3 linked regions of the Homo sapiens genome follow. The protein of the gene in region 3 interacts with the protein of the main gene of each other region in a pairwise test. Each region holds a gene or a part of one and is shown on either strand. Other genes may lie near its edges.

Region 1 (6,525 bases), on a different chromosome or scaffold from region 3:
GGATTACAGGCTCCTGCCACCACACTCAGCTAATTTTTGTATTTTTAATAGAGACGGGTTTCACCATGTTGGCCAGGCTGGTCTCAAACTCCTGACCTCAAGAGATTCACCCGCCTCAGCCTCCCAAAGTGGTGGGATTACAGGTGTGAACCACCACACTAGTCTCTGCCTTTTGATTGGAGTGTTTAATCTACTTTTTTGTTTTGTTTTTGTTTTTGTTTTTGTTTTTGTTTTTTAGACAATCTCACTCTGTCGCCAGGCTGGAGTGCAATGGCACGATCTCAGCCCACTGCAACCTCAACGTCCCGGGTTCAAGTGATTTCCCTTCCTCAGCCTCCTGAGTAGCTGGGATTATAGGCATGAGCCACCACGTCCAACTAATTTTTGTGTTTTTAGTAGAGATGGGGTTTCTCCGTGTTGGCAAGGCTGGTCTCGAACTCCTGACCTCAGGTGATCCACTCGCCTCAGCCTCCCAAAGTTCTAAGATTACAGGTGTGAGCCACCGCACTGGAACTCGGCCTGTTTTGTTTTTTGAATTGAGACAGAGTATCACTTTGTTGCCCAGGCTGGAGTGCACTGGCGTAATCTCGGCTCACTGCAGCCTCCACCTCCTGGGTTTAAGGGATTCTCGTGCCTCATTCTCCCGAGTAACTGGGACTGCAGGAGTGTGCCATCAGACCCGGCTAATTTTTGTACTTTTAGTAGACACAGGGTTTCACCATGTTGGTCAGGCTGGTCTTGAGCTCCTGACCTCAAGTGATCCGCCCGCCTCGGCCTCCCAAACTGCTGGGATTATAGGTGTGAGCCACCACACCCAGCTGTTTTGTTTTTTTTTTTAAGTGGGGTCTCTCTCTGTCACCCAGGCCAGAGTGCAGTGGCACAATCTCAGCTCAGTGCAACCTCCGCTTCCCGGGTTCAAGCAATACTCCTCCTTCAGCCTCCCAAGTAACTGGGATTACAGGCACCCGCCACCATGCCCGTTTTTGTTGTTGTTGTTGTGTGTGTGTGTGATGGAGTCTCGCACGGTTGCCCAGGCTAGAGTGCAGTGGCGCAATCTCGGCTCACTGCAGCCTCTGCCTCCCGGGTTCAAGCGATTCTCCTGCCTCAGCCTCCCAAGTAGTTGGGATTACAGGCATGCACCACCATGCCAGGCTAATTTTTGTATTTTTCGTAGAGAGAGGGTTTTGCCATGTTGGCCAGGCTGGTCTTGAACTCCTGGGCTCAAGTAACCCTCCCACCTTGGCCTCCCAAAGTGCTGGGATTATAGGCATGAGCCACTGCGCAAAACCTAATCTCATGTTTAATGTAATTATCAATGTGAGTGGATTTGTGTTTATATTTGCAGTTTATGTTTCATGTTTTGCTCCTCTGTTCTTTCACTGCCTTCTTTTCTGTTAAATGTGTATTTTCTAGTTGTGTTTTCTAGTGTACCACTTCAATTCTTTTGTTGAACATTTTTAAACAGTATCTTTAAAGTTGTTATTTTCTTACTGCTATAGGTATTACAATATACATTTTAATTTATCTCAGTTTCAGTAGGAGGATAGAATTTCCTCAAGCAGGGAAAGTGTACTGCAGAGGCTGAGTGTATACATTCCTGGCAAACACTATTTGGGCCCCAATATAAGCACTTACTGAGCTCCTTTCACCTACAGAACGAACACATCCCGTTCTTTTAAAAGCTGCCTTCCAGCCGGACCTCCAGCCCAGGACACCCTGTCCTCAAGCCTCCCTCAGATCCTGTTCTTTAAAAAGCTGCCTTCAGCTGGGCACGGTGGCTCACGCCTGTAATCCCAGCACTTTGGGAGGCCGAGGCGGGCGGATCACGAGGTCAGGAGATCGAGACCATCCTGGCTAACATGGTGAAACCCCGTCTCTACTAAAAATACAAAAAAATTAGCTTGGCGTGGTGGTGGGCGCCTGTAGTCCCAGGTACTCGGGAGGCTGAGGCAGGAGAATGGCATGAACCCGGGAGGCGGAGCTTGCAGTGAGCCGAGATCGTGCCACAGCACTCCAGCCTGGGAGACAAAGGGAGACTCCGTCTCAAAAAAAAAAAAAAAAGGCAGTGATAATTTTAAAAATTAATTGTAGAGGACTTGGTATGTACACAAAAGTATACACGAGTTTATGCATGTTATGAAGCCCCAACAGGAATCCCCTGCTCCCAGCACCGCCTGGGTCAAGTCCACCCACCTGCTCCCAGCACCGCCTGGGTCAAGTCCACCCACCTGCTCCCAGCACCGCCTGGGTCAAGTCCACCCACCTGCTCCCAGCACCGCCTGGGTCAAGTCCACCCACCTGCTCCCAGCACCGCCTGGGTCAAGTCCACCCACCTGCTCCCAGCACCGCCTGGGTCAAGTCCACCCACCTGCTCCCAGCACCGCCTGGGTCAAGTCCACCCACCTGCTCCCAGCACCGCCTGGGTCAAGTCCACCCACCTGCTCCCAGCACTGCCTGGATTGAGTCACCTACGTGCTGTGGTGGCAACACTTTTCTTTTAATCCTTAACTTTGGAAAATGTGAGACGTGCACATGAGTTGGATCGCCCAGGAGAGGCCCGTCGCCCTCACCTGTATCAGCTGCTTTAGCGCCTGCCCTCCTGGCTTGTCCCCCTCTCTCTTTGGGCTGAGGGCTGAGCATTTTAAAGCAAGCCCCACGCATCATTATTTTCATTTGTGAGGCCTGGATCACTGTAAGTCAGATTTGGATTGTGTTTTAATTGGATTTTTAGTCACTGTTTTTATTTCATTACTTATTTTTGGTTTTTATTTGTTCGTTTGTTTTTGGTTTTGTTTCTGTTTTTGAGACAGGGTCTGGCTCTGTCACCCAGGCTGGAGTGCAGCGGCGCGATCTTGGCTCACTGCAACCTCCACTTCCCAGGTTCAAGCGATTCTCCTGCCTCAGCCTCCCTAGTAGCTGGGGATTACAGGCACCCGCCACCACGTCCGGCTAATTTTTGTATTTTTAGCAGAGACGGGGTTTCACCATGTTGTTCAGGCTGGTCTTGAACTCCTGACCTCATGATCTGCCTGCCTTGGCCTCCCAAAGTGCTGAGATTACTGGCATGAGCCACCGTACCCAGCCTATTTTAGGTTTTCTATAGACAGGGTCTCGCTTTGTCACCCAGGCTGCAGTCCAGTGGTGCCATCACGGCTCACTACAGCCTTGATCTCCTGGCTCAAGTGATCCTCCTGCCTCTGTCTCCCAAGTAGCTTGGACCACAGGCATGAGCCACCACACCCAGCTAATTTTAAAACATTTTTTTTTTTTTATAGAGATAGGGTTTTGCTATGTTGCTCAGGCTGGTCTCCAACCCCTGACCTCAAGTGACCTCAACCTCCCGAAGTCATTGTTTTTACAGTCTGTGATGTTGGCTTTTCTCATTTATTTGTATCAGGCACTTTCATTGTTAGCTTCTTGTGAATTTAACCATTTTTTTCCGTTTTTCAAAAACTGAAACGCTAACTTCTAATTCTGGCTTTTCAGATAATGATTTTTTTTTCAAAAGTGTTTTAGCATTATACTGTAAGAAGCATCACATTGATGTTTAAGATGGAAAAATTTGCTTTAAAAAAGAACTGAGTAGTTCTGATTTTAAAAGTCAACCCTGGGCCTTTGCCTCTTTGCTGGAAGAACCTGATGGAAGCTTCTGTAGCTCAGAGTCAACACTGATGTGCGCCCTCTCTCCCTCCATCTGCACAGGCCCCAGGGAGTGGCTCAAACCTGTAGACCAGAGAAGGAAGCATCTAGAACTCCTGGGGGCCTTGTCCGCCGCCCACATCCTCTCACGGGGGGCAGCTCCCATGAGGGGTGCAGGCCCCTCACCCCACACAGAGTCTCGGCAGGAACCGGAACCCTTCCTGGTTGCCCCAGAGTGGAGGCCCGGGAGGGGCGGGCGGTGGGTCTGCACCCGATGCTGCAGTTTGCTGATGTATGTGCTTTCATGCTATGTAGATTTATAGTCTATTACCAGGTAATTTTAATTTTTTTTTTTTTTTTTTTTTTGAGACGTAGTCTCACTCTGTCGCCCGGGCTGGAGTGCCGTGGCACAATCTTGGCTTACTGCAACCTCTGCCTCCCAGGTTCAAGTGATTCTTGTGCCTCAGCCTCCCAAGTAGCTGAGATTGCAGGTGCGCATGACCACAGGCGGCTAGTTTTTGTATTTTTAGTAGAGATGGGGTTTTGCCATGTTGGGCAGGCTGGTCTCGAGCTCCTGGCCTCAGGTGATCTGCCCACCTCGGCCTCCCAACATGATGGGATTACAGCCGTGAACCACTGCGCCCGGCCTAATTTTGCTCTTTTATTATAATCAGCTGGAATTCTGCTCTCTAGGGAATAACTCTGTCACCATTTGGAAGCATTTATTTCTGCTCTGTGTGTCATATACGTACCTATCACGCCCCCGTGCACGGAGCTGCCTCTGTCTGACGAGGCCGTCTCAGCTTCAGCACCTGGCGCTTCCTCTAGAGCTCTGCTCCATTCCGAGGTGCTCGACGTAGCAGGGAGGCAGAGCCTGGTTCTGTGTGCTGACCTCACAGGAGCTGTGGCTTCTCCCAGGCACCATCCCCCACCTCCTTTCTCTGCAGCCACGGGCTGGTTCCAGTTTGCTTTTTCATCTTTGCCATTAAAAACAGAACTGGGGCGGGGCGCAGTGGCTCACACCTGTCATCCCAGCACTTTGGGAGGCCGAGGCGGGCAGATCCCCTGAGGTCAGGAGTTCGAGACCAGCCTGACCAACATGGTGAAACCCTGTCTCTACTAAAAATGCAAAACATTAGCCAGGTGTGGTGGCGTGCACCTGTAATCCCAGCTGCTAGGGAGGCTGAGGCAAGAGAATTGCTTGAACCCAGGAGGCAGAGGTCGTGGTGAGCCGAGATTGCGCGTTACACTCCAGCCTGGGAAACAAGAGCGAAACTCTGTCCGAAAAACAACAAAAAAACCCCCACAGAACTTGATCGTAATTTACATATGTAATATTTACATATTTAAATGTTTTTCTGCATGTGTGATATTTTTTGTTTACATCCCTAACACAAAACAACTGGTTTGGAGAGTCTTACCCTGGTTTGTTGTTTGACTTTTTTTTTTTTTTTTTTTGATATGGAGTTGTTCTGTCACCCGGGCTGGAGTGCAGTGGCACCATCTCGGCTCCCTGCAACCTCTGCCTCCCAGGGCTGAGCAGTTCTCCTGCCTCAGCTTCCCGAGTAGCTGGGATTAGAGGTGCCTGCCACCATGCCCAGCTAATTTTTGTATTTTTAGTAGATACGGGGTTTCACCATGTTGGCCAGGCTGGTCTCGAACTCCTGACCTCAGGGGATCCACCCTCCTGGGCCTCCCAAAGTGTTGGGATTACAGGCGTGAGCCACCGTGCCCTGCCTGTTGTTTGCCTTTTGATCCAATTCCTCAAACCAAGAGAGTGTGGGGAAGGCTGTATTGGAGCAGAGCCCACCAGAGTTTGGGCGCACGGGGGCTGGGGAGGGCATTCTCAGCACCTCCAGGTGAGGTTACAGAGGGCTGCACCCTCTGGGGTCTGCCTTGGGGACCCTGCCCAGACCCTGCTCCACCCACTGACCCTGCTGACATGGGTGTGTCCTCCCTTCCAGGACTGGAAGGATCACCAGCACATATGCGGCCAGTCAGCAGCTGTCACCGTCCAGGCAGACGAAGTCCACGTGGCTGAAAGCGTGATGGAGAAGGTGACCGTGTGAGGCTCCATCGGCCGCCCTGGGAGCTGGGGCCCCTCGCACTCCTGTGAGGCTTTTGCAGGTCGAAGGCCCCCCTGAGGACTCTGGGGGGACGTTGAGAAGAGGGGTGTGGGAAGGTAAAGAAACTTGCTGGACAAGTCATTAACACACTTTAAGCGAATGGTGCCCTGGGAAGCGCACTCCCCCTGCCCGGGCCCCCTGCCCGCTCGCGGACAGATTTTTTATCCCTGGGATCATGAGCGTCCGGTCTTGCCCACAGGGCCTGTGCTGCGACGCACATACATACGTGTTGTGTCTGTCAATAAAGTGTAAATAAGGTCTCCCTGCCCCACACGGCCGGTTGCAGTGCCAGCCCTCGGGGGGGGGTTTCCTCCCCTTCCTCCTACTGCGCAGGTGGGAAAACCAAGCCCACCGCACCTCTGGTGCACGGGACAGCGCGGCCAGGCCGGAGCCTCCGGTGCACGGGGCAGCGCGGCCGGGCTGAAGCCCTGGCGTCTGGTGGCTCGTGTAGTCCAGGAGGTCTTCGTTCCTTCTGTTCCACGAGACCCTCGTGGCTGCTGGGAGGTGCAGCAGGCCTACGGCCCTTCCCGCCAGGTTTCGGGGCACATGGTGCCTCCTGTGCCCTGGCTGCTTGAGCGAGCCCGACGGTCCAGCACGGCCTGTTCAGTCCACGTGGACAGCTTGGTGGCCTCGGTCCAGGGATCCACACGCAGAGCCTCATGGCCTCCTGGTCTCCCCCTTGTTTCTCATGGCCCTGGCGCCAGGTGGAGGAGAAAGGGCTGAAGCCTGTGGGGGGCACAAGGGGGCGTGTCCAGCGTGT
Region 2 (7,659 bases), on a different chromosome or scaffold from region 3:
AGAGCTTTTTATTCTTCTGTTTAAGGGTATTTTGCTTTCAATTATCATCAATGAGTTTCACGCATATAAACAGAAAAAGTGAAGGTAACACTCTAGTCTCCAGGTGACCTTTGACAAATAATCAGTAATCAATGTTTCTTGAACTGAAGATAATTTTATTAAACACCAAGAGAATATAAGCAGCAATCGAAACATTCTTAAACTGAAGTTAAAAGGCCTCAGTGGCCAGGCGTGGTGGCTCACGTCTGTAATCCCAGCACTTTGGGAGGCCGACATGGGCAGACTGCTTGAGTCCAGGAGTTCAAGACCAGCCTGGGCAACATGGCGAAATCCCGTCTCTACAAAAAATACAAAAAGTAGCCAGGTGTGGTGGCATGCACCTGTAGTCCCAGCTACTGCAGGGAGGGGAGGAGAGGTAGGAGGATCGCTTGAGCCTAGCAGGTTGAGGCTGCAGTAAGCCTAGATCACGCCACTGCACTCCAGTCTGGGTGACAGAGTGAGACCCTGTCTCAAAAAAAAAATAAAATAAAAGGCCTCAGTGTAATAAATTGTTAATGTGTATCTTCTTGAGCTCCTGTAAGAAAAGGGTCTTTGTTTAGTTCACTGCTATATCCCCCAGCCCCTCACAGTGGCACATGCTAAGAGCTCAATAAATGTACTGAATCGATTAATGAAAGAAATTCCATTTAAAAATCAAAAATAAAGGCACAGTCATAGAGTTAAAAAGGAATGAGTCATTAAATCCAACTTCCCACCCCAAATAGAATTTCCTCCTTTCAACATTTTGCCATTTCAACCACTTCTAGGGACAAGGAGTTTATGAAATTTTTAGACAGTCTATTCCAATGATGGAACAATCCCAAACCCCTTGCCTCTATTTCTCCCTCCACTTCATGCCACGTTTAAGGTAGTAATCTCCAAAACTGGATGCATATATCCTAAAGTATTATCAGATGATTCATAAGGATGTGAGAGGAAAATGAGACATTCTATATTAAATTTTCCAAATTTAGATTGAAAAGTTGTACTTATATTTAATATACAAATGGGCACTGGCACCTTCCTTCAAGCCACATATCAAACTGGTACAAAGAGAAAACTAGTAGTTCCACAACAGAGAAGGATTAAGAGTGGTGCCCTCAGTTGGATGTTCCTTCCACTTCTGCACACTGAAACATTTCCACATACATTCTATAGAATAAAACCAGACCTTTAAACAGTAGAATCTTTGTAAAGAGAAAGTGAATGGCAATTACCTTCTGGTTTCCTGGTTTCTCCTATGGCCAAGTGTTTAAGGGTTGGATTTAAAGATAAGCATTTTCCTTTTACACAGAGAAGAATTCTCCACTGACTATTTATGTATTTATGACAATGACTATCAGTAGTACATGCTACCTAGCAGATATTTTCCAAAAAACAAAACATACTTAATCTGTCTTTTCAAAATAAAGATAGCACTTTAATAATGAGTAAGAAAGCAACCACTTTTCAAAGACTACTTGTACTATGAGGAGAACATTTGAAAAACTGTATTTGGAAATGTTTCCATTGTTCCATGATTTTGTTGCTGAAAACAATGTCTATTAAAAACATTGCTTATTTTTTAAGTCATTATCTATATAGTTTACAAAATGTTTAAAAACATGAAAAGACTATTCCAACCAATCTAAGTCTTCTGAACAAAGAGCTTGAAAAACTGAATTTTAAACCTAATTGTGTGTATATATGCAATGTCAATTAGCCATAATAGAAAAACTAATTGAGATCAGGAATGAAAGGAATGTCATTGCTGAGTTCAACAAAATTCTTTGCATAATTGATCATTTAGAATTGAAACAGTAGGAGTACAGCAATTCTTCAATTAGCATCAGTTTTTCCATTAGGATCTGTGAATCTCCGAAGGTACCTTTTTTTCAGTCATGTAAGTCATTAAAATCAAGTATCTGGCTGGGTCCTATGGCTCATGCCTGTAATCTGAGCACTTGGGAGGCAGAAGTGGGAGGACCACTTGAAACCAGGAGTTCAAGACCAGCTTTGGCAACAAAGCAAGAGAATGAATCCTCTACCAAAAAAAAAAAAAAAAAAAAATCAAGTGTGAAAATAAACTGAATTTGGAATCAGAACTCTGAACAGCTGTATCTAAGGGTCACACTAAGATTTATCCTAACCATCAACACAGCACATGAAAATAAATCAGCAACAGCAAATGTTTACTGGATGCTTTGACATTATCATTTTAGTTTACAAAACCCGCCCATCAAGAACAAAACATCATCCTCAGATTAAGTTTAGTAATAAATCATTTTGCCAATGATTCTGAACTCAAACTATAAAATTCAAATATCACTACCTCTGATTTCCCATAAGGACTAAATAAAACCTCACAAATGAAAGTGCCTAGTACAATGCCTGACATAAATACATACTCAATAAACATTAACTGCCTTTCTTTTGATCTTAGGCCATGTGATGTAATACTTGCTAGATGTGTGATGGGGCAAACTGCTTAACTCCATCTGTAAAATGGAAATATTAATGCCCACCTTATAGGGTTAAAGTCATTAAAGGATAATGCATACAAAGCCCTTCCACCCACAAAAGGCATTAATAAATCCTGAACCCTCTTTTTTCAAGATAACCTATTCATAACTGTATCAAAAGTATAGAATCATGGGTTGTTGAATTCAAAAATATCCTTCAGAATCCCTATCTTTTGGAAGAATTACAGGAATACAATACCATAAGACGGACGACACAGAGATGAAGTGTGTGCTCCATTAGTGTTTACTGAACTCAGGTGAATTGCTAAGTCCATTATCACTCGGCTAATTGTGGCGGTCTGGAGAGTCTCTCCAGGGGTAGGACTCTCACCTCCTGGTGAGCGACTGGGTCTTACTGCTCTCAAACCAGGGCTCTTTCCACTATCTTGTGTCCTCTCCCTAGTTTATGTCAGGTACATACTGATAAAATTATATACTGATTTATAGTCTCTAGCACAAATTCGCTTAAGGGTCATAATAAGGTATTTCCATAATTTAAGATTTTCTGTGGCTAAGGAAGTAAGGGTTGGGCAAAGGGTAGAAGTCACTCTATTCCTGTCAAACCCAAAAGTGAATATACTTTAAGTAAAATGCTATGCATTGAACACACAAATGCAGGTACGACTGCATGTGGTGAGTCGAAATTCAGATGAAGCACCTGTATAGCAATGAGTGAATTCACAGCCTCTAGATGACAAGTAGAAGGCAGGTTTTAAAATGTCTGAAAATTGCAACTTCAGCGCTTTTGCAACACCTGCTTTTACGATCTGTCACGTGGAGCAAAGAGGCATAACTCAACAGCACTACTAGGGCCAGACGACCATTCACAGGCTGGATACACAAACCTATCTTGTAAACATATAATCAAGCAAAAGCAGGCAAACCGGCACAAGAGGCCTTCACCTAACTTTCTTCCAGATGGCAAACGCTGCACGATGACAAACAAGGCAAACATGGTGCGCAAGCAGCCAACCCAAAACAAATAACTAGGGATTCTGACATCCAAAGGTCCTCTTCATCCTTAATCCTTCCAGAATGTCATCCCACAAGGCAGGGTTTGTTTGCCACAAAACCCTGCGGCCCCTCACATCCCGAGGGACAGTTCTGGTCACCTCCTCCCACGGACCTATTGAGCCTGCTTCACAGACCCCCGAAGCACTGACTCAATTATTCCCACAGTGTAGATTCCATTACATCTGTTAAAGTTTCCGGAACACGTGATTTAGGAGAGCAAACTTGTTAGAAACAGATTAAACAACACTCTAACACATTTCTCTGAGCCGTGTCACACTCGGGTCCAAACAATTCCCAAGGAGGGACTGACTGTCACCAATCTTGGATGGCACTGGTTCAAAGCGCCCTAAAGAGGGGAGCGAGCCCCGCCCGGCTCGCCGCCGGCAGCTCTTACCCATTTGTCCAAGGGGACCTGGGCGAGGGACCCGGTGCCTTGGTACAGGTCCAGGCTGAGCTGCTCCAGGCTCAGCTTCTCCTGCAGAAAGTGGCCCAGGTACCTCTGCAGGAGGTACCGGCAGGCCCTCTTCTTGATGGACTCCGAAAACGGCCAAGGCATAGTGACTGCTGGCAGCTGGGCTGACTGCGGCTGCGGGTTGCGACGGCTCCGGCCTCGGGGTAGCGACTCCGGCTCCAGGCCGCGGCGGGGCCTAAGCCTGGGGCGGCCCCTCCATCCCTATTTGGTGCCGGGAGTCCCTCAGGGAGACCCCATCGCCGGCGCCGCACCGCTCGCGCTGGGCCTGGCGGAGGCAAGACGCAGAGGGGTCCTCCTGGCCCCAGGCCAGGGGACTTCCGAGGAGGGTCCCAACCGGCTCGGAGAGAGTGCAAGAGAGCGCGAGAGGAGGCGGCAGGGGCTGAGGCAGCCACCGCCACTGCCGCCGCGCGACGAATTTGTTGTCATCCGCGAGGCGCGTTCCCGGCTGTAGGGACGCTCCTGGCGCGTTCACGAGACCCAGACTCCCGGCGCGCCGCCGGGCGCTGGCGGAAGTGACGCCACACTGGGGCCGCGGAAGGCGGGCAGAAGGGCGGGGGCTGGAGCAGTTCCGGCTCCGAGGGGGCGGGGCGGAAGAAGGCGGGGAGGGAGGGGGCGGCACCGCCGGTCGGCTCCAGTCGCCTCCGGAGGAAGGAAGAAGAGGACGCCGGGCGCGCAGGTGAGCGGCAGCCGGGGTGGCTGCGGGCGAGGGGCGGCCCCCGAGAAGGGCTAGGGGCTCGGGGCGCCGGCGGGCCGTCAGGCCTTCCGGATGGGGACGCGACGCCATGCAGCTGGCTGGGCCGAGAGGGGCGGCAGGCTGCAGGGGCCCCGCGCCCGTGTTAAGAGGGGTCTGGGGGCCGGTCTGGCCGGCCTGGCTCTCCCGGCTCCCCTCAGACCTCGGCGCCCCGGAAACGCACACTTGGGGCTCCGCCGTCTCCGCTGGGAGGACTGGAGCCCTTCTCGAGCATCCCCGCCCGCACCCGAGCATTGACCGGTGCCCATTGTCAGCAAGTTCTTCGGCCCCCGCCTCATTCAGGTATTGTTTCTGAGGCAGCTTCTTCGTTGCCGTTTGCCTGGCGGTTTGCAGAGCGCTTCTCGCATACGCTCGCTTAATCCTGGGTGTGTCATAGCAACGATCAGGAAACTTGGGTTTTCGAAGCATCTGTGGGCAAAACTGCATTCCTTGAGAAATGCTAAAGGCTCCTGACCCCGCCGGAACCTGGGTGAAGAACTTGGGCTGTTCTGGCAGTCTGCGCAATCGTATTTCTGCCTTTTGGGAGGTAACTCCTGCAGAGGCGGAGCCGGCTGTTAAGTTAAGTCAACCTCGAAAGGCCTGGGTGCGGGTGTTCTATGGCCCAGAAGCCAGATGTCCTTCGTTAGAATCCCGGCACTGACACCTATTAGCCGCCCAGCCACTTTGAGCGGCCACTGCCCTCCCCGAGCCCACGTTGCCTCCTTTGCCGAGTGTGAGCGGATTAAAATCTTATGTGCATGGATTTGTTGGGAAGATTAAATGATATGAGTAGGGCACGAACCTGAACAGAGTCCTGAAACATACAGCTGTTTAATCACAGTGAATTAAGACGACCAGTTTAAGGAGTGAAATGTTTACTGTCTCGGCAACTTTCATGAATGCCTTGGAAATACAGCCCAAAATATTGGTAGATGGAGAAACATCTGGTTCCCCTTTCCACAACCACCTTTTCGTTTTAGAACCAGGGTACTTTGTATGCAGTTGCTTGGATTGTTGATTTCCCTCATTCTTTGTAGACTCATCTCAAGTATTCTCAGTAACTTAGATTCCCTTGCTCTTCATTCAGAAATATTTGTTAAGGTCCATTAAATGAAAGTCACCACAGTTGATCATGTGAACAGTGTCAAGAATCAGGCCGAACCTTCAAGGAGTTTATGTTCTAAAACGGAAGCATGGTGGTACCTGCTTGTGGAGGCTGAGGCGGAAGGATCGCTTGAGCCCAGGACTTTGAGGCTGCATAATTGCATTGACGCTATCCATAGAGTGCCTGCAATTTCAAATATCAGAAAGGATCGTACGAGCTATGATCATGCCACTGCACTCCAGCCTGAACCACAGAGCAAGACCCTTTCTCTCAATAAAGTGGAAGTTTGTTCATTTATTCAGTAAATATTTATTGATTGCCTTCTGTGTGCCAAGCACTGTTCTAGGTACTGGGATTACAGCAGTGAACAGATAAATCTCTTCCTTCCTGGAACTTACATTTTATTGAAGGGAGGAGACATACAATAAATGAGTGAATAATATGCTTTGTGGTGATAAGGGCTGTTGGAAAAACGAAAGCAATGTAAAGGGAGTGGAGATGGGGAAGAGAGAAGGGACTTGCCATTTTTATATGAGATGGTAAGAGAAATTCTCTTGTTTAATAAGATTACATTTTAGCAGAAACTTGGAGAAAGCTGGGAAGTGAGGCACATGTATACCTGGAAGAGTTGTTTTCCATGCAAGGGGAACAGCAAGTGCAACGCCCTGTCACGGGAGAATGCTTGATGAATTTAGGGAACATCAAGAGTGAGTGAAGGAAAAAGTAGAAGCTGGGCAGTTTGGGGGTGGGGGGTGGGGCGGGCGGGGCGCAGAGGAAGCACATCATGTAGGGCCTCGTAGGCCATTGATAAGAACTTTGGAGCCGGGCACAGTGGCTCACTCCTGTAATCCCAGAACTTTTGGGAGGCCGAGGTGGGCGGATCACTTGAGGTCAGGAGTTCAAGACTAGCATGGCCAACATGGTGAAACCCTGTCTTTACCAAAAATATATAAAAAATCAGTCAGGTGTGATGGCGTGCACCTGTAATCCCAGCTACTTGGGAGGCTGAGGCAGGAGAATTGCTTGAACCCGAGAGGCGGAGGTTGCAGTGAGCCGAGATTGTGCCACTGCACTCCAGCCTGGGCAACAGAGTGAGACTCTATCTTAAAAAAATAAAAAGAACTTTGGCCTTTACTCTGGGTGAGGTGGATTTAGGAGAGGAGTGACACAGTATGGCCTAAGTTTCTATGGGATCATGCTAACTGCTGTTAAGAATAGTCTGGTGTGGAAGTGGGAGGGCCAGAGTGAAAACAGCAGAACCAGTTAGAAGGATATCACCGTAATGCAAGGAAAAGATGACAGTGGTTTGGACCAAAGCGGTAGCGGTGAAAATGATTAGTTAGAAGCAGTTGGATTCTGGATATATTTTGAAGATAAGACATGTTTGTAAATAATAATTCTAATATTTGCCATAAAAGGAATACAAACAAGGTGGTATGAAAAGGCAAAGGTGGGATCTTGCAAGAAATTAGAATAGGCTTTGGAAGGTTTGAAATAGACTTCTGACAAATAGATACAATTTGGACTTCTTTCAGCAGTTATTAAATAAGTGGTTTCCTTTTTCAATATAGAATTGCATTCGGGCTATCCATAGAGTGCCTGCAATTTCAAATATCAGAAAGGAAAATTAAAACGACGGTTTTGCAATAACAAATATGCTCTATTCAGAGTATTGTGTGTTGCCTTGTAAACTTTATGCTTTCTAGGAGAAATTCAGTATAAATGTTAAGGTTTAGGACCTGTCATTATGATATCTTTGGCTACAGTAGGGTACAAACTCATCTCAAATCACAGTGCC
Region 3 (7,035 bases):
GCCTCTAGTGGGGAGAGCCTTGAGGATGGGGTGTACTCCAGCAGGCTAGAGCAGAGCGCGATGGCCTCTGGCGGCGTTCGAGATTTGAACACCTGAGGGATGGGTGCAGGGCTCATGAGGGTGAGATGCCCTGGACACTGGCATACTCCTGTTATCTCACTGCCACAGTGCCTGCGGCAAGTTATGACTGGTTGCTTCCCACACCCCCACCTTCCAAATGAAGAAACTAAGGCCCAACCACTAAGGAGAGGTCAGTTTGTATCGGGTAAGCAGGCAGCCCAGGTCTGGGACTATATGAGCCCTGCTGACCCTCCATAAAAATTGGAATCTTGAATTTACTTGTGGGTTCTCAACTTTTAAAATGCCATAAACTTTGAAAGCGGATGGATGTTATTGATCCCTGGATAACTCTTCAAATCCTCCCAAGCCGTGATTCTGAGGCTAGGTCCACAGAACAGTTGACCTCCAAGGGGGACCAGCTCTCAGCCATACTGCCCTGAGCCCCTAGCCCTGCCCCACCTTTGTCCAGGGGTGAGCTTTAATCTGAGGGAACTTGAACTCCGTGTAGTTGGGGTTCATCTCTCGGATTTGTTCCCGGGTTGGTGTTCCCAGCACCTGTAAAGAGAGGGAGGGGTCTGAGACAAGGGCCCCATCCCTCAGCCCCACCCCCTGCCCAGCCCAGCCCCGCCCCTCACCTTGATGATCTCCACCAGCTGGTCCACCCCACTGTCCCCAGGGAAGATGGGCTGGCCCAAGAGGAGCTCTGCCAGTACACAGCCAGCTGACCAAACATCTGAGGGGAAATGGAGGGAGCGTCAGGGCTAGGCGAGTAGGGCCACCAACCTCCCAATGCTTTTATTCCTCATGGCCATCCTAAGAGTGTCAGGAGCCCCGTTTTCTCAAAGACAAAGCACCTGGCCCAAGGTCACATGCAGCTTAGAAACATGGGCCCGACCTTGACCCTGCCTTTGCTGTACTCTCTAGTCTAGGTGTGTTTCCAGCCCTCAGTTCCTCTCTCTGCTAAGGACCCCAATGAGCTCCTTCTCTCCCGCTAGCCTTGGACGACAGACCAAATTAGGCCCAAACCTGCCAACAGGCACCCATGTTCTTTGGGCCACAGGAAGGTACAGCCTTAAATCCTGGACTGCCTTCCTCTTGTTCCAGCCTCTCTCCTGCCCATGAGAAGAGCTGCAGCGTGGCAGTCTCACCCCTCCCTGCTTTGTACCTTGACCCCCACAGCACGAGTTCATACCTAAGGACTCCACAGTTCGTCATGCTGCTGTGGAAGGTGCCCTTTCAAACTCTCATGCCCATTCCCTCAATTCAGACTTCCCCTCATGCCTGGAAAATGGCAGTTGTCCCCACAAACAGGGAAGGACACAGAGGCCCTGGGAGCAAGTTGCACCTTCATGGTGGCAAAGCCTTGCTTCCCGGTTCCCCCAAGGTCTCCAGCAGCCCTTCCCCCTAGCTGAGAACAGAGGGCTGACAGGGAGGTTCCAGAGCTGGTATGGACTCTGGAGTCAGGTCAGCTTTCAAATCCCAGTCCTGCCCAGTCCTAGTGGTGCCAGTGCGGGCAGGCGGCCTCACAGCTCTAAGCTCATCTGTAAAATTAGCATTCAACAGCATCAGCCTCCTAAGTTTGTGAGGACTGGATACAAGAACAGAAGTTAAGCTTTCATCACCAAGCTTGGCATACAGCACACAGAAAACTCCAAAACTTCCCAGATTGCCACTCCCCCCGCCACCCTCCCATAACTCTGACCGATGGATGAGGTGTAATCAGTGGCTCCAAAGATGAGCTCTGGGGCCCGGTAGTAGCGAGAACAGATGTAGGAGACATTGGGCTCCCCTCGGACCAACTGCTTTGCACTGTGGGAAGAGATGGGCAGGGGTACACGTGAGGCAAGGGTTGGGGTCCCCCCTGCCTCTTCAGCCACCCAACATGCCCCAGGCCCACCTGCCAAAATCGCAGAGCTTGAGGACAGCAGTGTCAGGGTCCACCAGCAGGTTCTGGGGCTTGATGTCGCGGTGACACACGCCCTGGGAGTGGATGTAGGCCAAGCTGCGGAAGAGCTGGTACATGTACACCTGCGGCGGGCACAGGATAGCAGAACTTTAGCCCAGCTTTCCCCATACAGCACCACTACCCCACCAGCTTGGCCTGAAGAGCCCTTCCAGGCCCACTCTCCCTGCTGCCCCCACAGCTTTGGGGAAACCCATTTGAAACCTTGGTTCTCTTAATGTGCACCACAATCACTTGAAGGACTTGTTAAAACAGGGACTACTGGCTGGGCGTGGCGGGTCACGCCTGTAATCCCGGTATTTTGGGAGGCCAAGACCAGCCTCGCCAACATGTTGAGATCCCGTCTCTACTAAAAATACAAAAATTAGCCGGGCGTGGTGGTGCACACCTGTAATCCCAGCTACTCGGGAGGCTGAGGCAGAAGAATCACTTGAACTCAGGAGGCGGAGGTTGCAGTGAGCCGAGATCGCACCACTGCACTCCAGCGTGGGTGACAGAGACCCTGTCTCAAAAAAAACAAAAAAAAAGGGACTGCTGGGCCCCACTCTTAGAGTTTCTGATCAGTGAGTTCTGAATGAGGCATTTGCAACAAGCTCTCCAGCACTGATGCTGGTCCCCGGACCACACTCTGAGAACCACTGCTTTAATCACAACCCTTGGCAGAAGCCTGATGAGTAAGGTACATCGGGAGGTTGTCATAAAACAGGCTAGGGAGCCAGGCACTCAGCTTCCCCCTCACCAAAACCACTGGCTCCTTAATCCGACAATCAAAACCACCCCTGAGCCTGCCCCCTCTCCAGCTCCATTTTCCTGCCACTCTCCCTCCCACTGACTAGAACAGAAGTACCGTGAGAGCAGGATTTTGAGTTTCAGTTACTGCTGCATCCCCCAGGGCCTAGACAGACCAGGTCCTGACATGGCTGCTTCCTAGGCCCCCTTCCTTTTATTCCAGTTCCCCTCGGCCAAAGATGCCACTTCCTTGCCCTGTGCTTGGTCTCCTCCAGGAAGCCTTCCTTGATCCTTCTCACCCACAAACCAGGCTGGGTGCTTCCTCCATTTCCAGAATTCCCTGTGCTCCTTCTGGTATGGCAGCAGCTAGTTCATTTAATAGTTTTCTGTGATGACGCCTTTCTACCCTACCAAACTGAGAGCTCTTCAAGGCCAAGGCCTGGGTCGCAGTCAGTGGTGCCTCTGGAATTCCTCAGCCCTGGGACCCGTATGCAGGCAGCCACAGGACAGATTCGCCAAACCAGAGAGCTCCCCTCCTGGGAAGTGAGGTCCAACAGCCACAACCACTGGTAGAGCCCACGTCGGCTCACCCGTGCTTGGTACGTAAAGCCAGCAGGAGCAGCAGCTGGGCCCCAAGTGACCTTCAGCAAACAAACCCACCCACCTCCTTCCAATGCAGTAGGCTGCTCCAGCCTGTTCGCCACATCATCCCTGGGCTGCAATCATTCATTCATTCATTCAAACACCTCCTGAAGGTCTGTAACACCCAGGGCACGATGCCAGGCACTGGGGAATGAGCCTGCACAGATGATGGACGGAGATGCATTCCTGGCTCTGTGGATGCTAACCTTCCTCCAGCCCTAACTCCTTCCCACCTACCCCCAGCCAAGGCTCTAAAGGCCCGAACTCTGGCCTCAGCAGCTGTCTCTGTGCAGTCCTGGTCCCCACCACCCCCTTATCCTGAGCTAACTCCAACATCTCTGGTGCCACTGGACTCCCTGTATGGACCTGAGCAACTACCTGGCAGCTTCTGCAACCCCAGGTGTCAGGCTGCCTTCCTGATTCAGTCAGGCCTTGCCTGCCTTGGCCCTCCCCTGTGTTAGGCGAGCTCCATCTCGGGGGGTTATGGGAACAACAGCAGGGGACATGGGGCCTCCAAAAACCAACATAAACTTGGCGGATGAGGGATCCCATAAAAGGCAGGAGGCTCCAGAGCCCCTGGCTTTGTGGGCCTGGGTCCCAGCAGCCCACCTGCTGGCCTACCTTGACATAGAGGATAGGGATGGTCAACTTGGCCTTGGTGAAGTGGCGGGCCACCCGGTACACTGTCTCGGGCACATATTCCAGCACCAGATTTAGGTAAAGCTCGTCTTTCTGCAGGGAGCAAAGGAGAGGTGTGAGGCACTGTGAGAAGAGTGAGGAGGGGGAAGGAAGGTATGCAGGGAGCAGTGGGGGAAAGGCAGGCAGGCAGGAAAATGGCTGGAGCAACCCACCACCACCACCTCGAGATCTCACCTTCTCGCCACTGGAGTAGAAAAAGTATCTCAGCCTCACAATATTGCAGTGGTCCAGCTTACGCATGATCTGCAGCTCTCGGTTCTTGAGGGCAAAGGGAGAGTCTCAGAATACAACCAACTCTCTCGGCTGCTCCTCCCTACTCACACTCACTCCCAACAACAGCCAGGCAGCTACTCCCTGTGTCCCAGCTCCAAGGTCCCCTGGAGTATCCCCCAATTCCTTGTCTCCAGACTATTCCCCTCCCACAGGAGCTGGAAGCCCACAGGTTAAACCCAGGCCACAGATGTGTTTTCTTCACCCCATTTTTTTTTTTTTTTGAGACAGAGTCTTGCTCTGTTGCCAGGCTGGCATGCAGTGGCTCAATATCGGCTCACTGCAACCTCTGCCTCCCTGGGTCAAGCAATTCTCCTGCCTCAGCCTTCCAAGTAGCTGGGATTACAGGCATGCACCACCACGCCCAGCTAATTTTTGTATTTTTAGTAGAGATGGGGTTTCACCACGTTAGCCAGGATGGTCTCGATCTCCTGACCTTGTGATCCACCTGCCTCAGCCTCCCTGACCTCATGATCCACAGGCCTCAGCCTCCCAAAGTGCTGGGATTACAGGCGTGAGGCACCGCGCCCAGCCACCCCACTTAAAAAAAAATTTTTTTTCAACTTATTGCTGACATGTAAAAGCCAAATGGCACCTTCTGATTTTTTTCTCCAAAATAAAGTTTTAAAAAGGATAGGCCAGGGCCAGGCGTGGTGGCTCACGCCTGTAATCCCAGCACTTTGGGAGGCTGAGGTGGGTGGATCACGAAGTCAGGAGATTGAGACCATCCTGGTTAACACGGTGAAACCCTGTCTCTACTAAAAATACAAAAAAAATTAGCCAAGCATGGTGGCAGGCACCTGTAGTCCCAGCTACTCGGGAGGCTGAGGCAGGAGAATGGCGTGAACCCAGGAGGCGGAGCTTGCAGTGAGCTGAGATCGCGCCACTGCACTCCAGCCTGGGCGACAGACTCTGTCTCAAAAAATAATAATAATAAATAAATAAATAAGATAAAATTTATTATTATTATTATTTTTAAAAGAACCTGGCTATGTTGGCCAGGTTGGTTTTGAACTCCTAGTCTCAGGCAATCCTCCTGCCTCGGGCTCTCCAAGTTCAAGGATTACAGGCATGAGCTACCATACCCAGCCTTAAAATAAAAATAAAATAAAAAACAGCTGGGCATGGTGGCTCACCCCTGTAATCCCAGCACTTTGGGAGGCCAAGGCAGGGAAATCACTTGAGGCCAGGAGTTCGAGACCAGCCTGGCCAACGTGGCAAAACCCCATCTCTACTAAAAATACAAAAAAATTAGCTGGGCATGGTGGCGCACGCCTGTGATTCCAACTACTCAGGTGGATGAGGTACAAGAATTGCTTGAACCCAGGAGGCAGAGGTTGCAGCGCTTGAACCCAGGAGGCAGAGGTTGCAGTGAGCCGACATCACACCACTGCACTCCAGCCTTAGTGACAGAACGAGATTCTGTCTTAAAAAAAAAAAAAAAAAAATAGAGACCATCCTGGCTAACTCGGTGAAACCCCGTCCCTACTAGAAATACAAAAAATTAGCCGAGAGTGGTGGCACACGCCTGTAGTCCCAGCTACTAGGGAGGCTGAGGCAGAAGAATCGCTTGAACCCGGCAGGCGGAGGTTGCAGTGACCCGAGATCACGCCACCACACTCCAGCCTGGGTGACAGCATGAGACTCCGTCTCAAAAAAAAAAAAAAAAAAAAAAAAAAGATTTCACATCTAAATCCAGTTTTCAGTTTGTCTTGAAAAATCAGGGCTAGGTATGCTGGCTCATGCCTGTAATACCAGCACTTTGGGAGGTCGAGGTGGGGGCGGATTACTTGAGGTCAGGAGTTCGAGACCAGCCTGGCCAACATGGCAAAACCCTGTCTCTACTAAAAATACAAAAAAAAAAAATTAGCCAGGCATAGTGGCCCATGCCTGCAATCCCAGCTACTCAGGTGGTTGAGGCACAAGAATCGCTTGAACCTGGGAGGCAGAGGTTGTAGCGGGCCAAGATCGTGCCACTGCACTCCAGCCTGGGTGACAGAGTAAGACTCCATCTCAAAAAAAAAAAATCAGGCATGGGCACATGAGGCTTGCCCCCCTACCTGGCACAAGCAACAACAGACAGGTAGTGGCCATCCAGCTCACTCTGGTCCCGTGGAAGCATCTGGGTCCTCGAACTCTATCTAGGATCCTGAGTCCCAGACTCCAGGCATTGGACTTTTCCCAGAATGCGGTCTCAGCATTCTTCCCCATTCTCTATTCCTCAGTGAGGCCTAGGAACTCCCTGCCCCTACATCCCTCTTACTTCTGGAACTCAACTCCAATCAAATTCTGACACCCTGGAGCTCCTCCTGCCCAAGGGCCCTCCCTGCCAAGACCGAGGCCCTGGTCTGGTTCCTTTCCAGTCTAGGCTCAGTTCTCCTACATCCAGACTAGTCTAAGCTCCAAATGCCAGGCCCTTAAACACCAATTATTCCTCAACTTCCACTTCCTCCATCTCCTTCTAGTTCCCTGAGCCTCTCCTAGCTCACAGGGCACCTCCATTCCATTCTGCGCTGGCCAAACACCTGGGAAGAGCGCGACCTTCAGAACCACCCGCGCTAGCCCTGCCAGGTCCCTTTCTCTCCTGGGAAGAAGTGTAACCAAATGGTTAAGGTAGAGGGTTTGGGAATCAGATTCCAGCCTTGACTGGGGCACTTGCTCTATGACCTCAG

The links. Proteins that work in one complex are often made in the same cells at the same time.
Region 1: the proteins of GSK3A (region 3) and DEAF1 interact in binary tests that used the Homo sapiens proteins (3 or more experiments, as listed by UniProt).
Region 2: the proteins of GSK3A (region 3) and GSKIP interact in binary tests that used the Homo sapiens proteins (3 or more experiments, as listed by UniProt).

Annotation. Positions count from the first base shown.
Region 1 is NC_000011.10:643,733-650,257, reverse strand, and holds the end of DEAF1 (deformed epidermal autoregulatory factor 1 homolog), read left to right. Parts: intron 1-3,702; coding exon of another isoform or gene 3,703-3,729; exon of another isoform or gene 3,730-3,926; intron 3,927-5,603; coding exon 5,604-5,708; 3' UTR 5,709-6,025; downstream 6,026-6,525. UniProt on the Homo sapiens protein: Transcription factor that binds to sequence with multiple copies of 5'-TTC[CG]G-3' present in its own promoter and that of the HNRPA2B1 gene. Down-regulates transcription of these genes.
Region 2 is NC_000014.9:96,358,867-96,366,525, forward strand, and holds the start of GSKIP (GSK3B-interacting protein), read left to right. Parts: upstream 1-4,659; 5' UTR 4,660-4,702; intron 4,703-5,869; exon of another isoform or gene 5,870-6,400; intron 6,401-7,659. Other genes in the region: ATG2B (autophagy-related protein 2 homolog B), read right to left, coding at 3,949-4,110. UniProt on the Homo sapiens protein: A-kinase anchoring protein for GSK3B and PKA that regulates or facilitates their kinase activity towards their targets.
Region 3 is NC_000019.10:42,232,591-42,239,625, forward strand, and holds part of GSK3A (glycogen synthase kinase-3 alpha), read right to left. Parts: intron 4,352-7,035; coding exon 4,268-4,351; intron 4,127-4,267; coding exon 4,016-4,126; intron 2,089-4,015; coding exon 1,958-2,088; intron 1,870-1,957; coding exon 1,763-1,869; intron 794-1,762; coding exon 696-793; intron 616-695; coding exon 520-615; intron 93-519; coding exon 1-92. UniProt on the Homo sapiens protein: Constitutively active protein kinase that acts as a negative regulator in the hormonal control of glucose homeostasis, Wnt signaling and regulation of transcription factors and microtubules, by phosphorylating and inactivating glycogen synthase (GYS1 or GYS2), CTNNB1/beta-catenin, APC and AXIN1.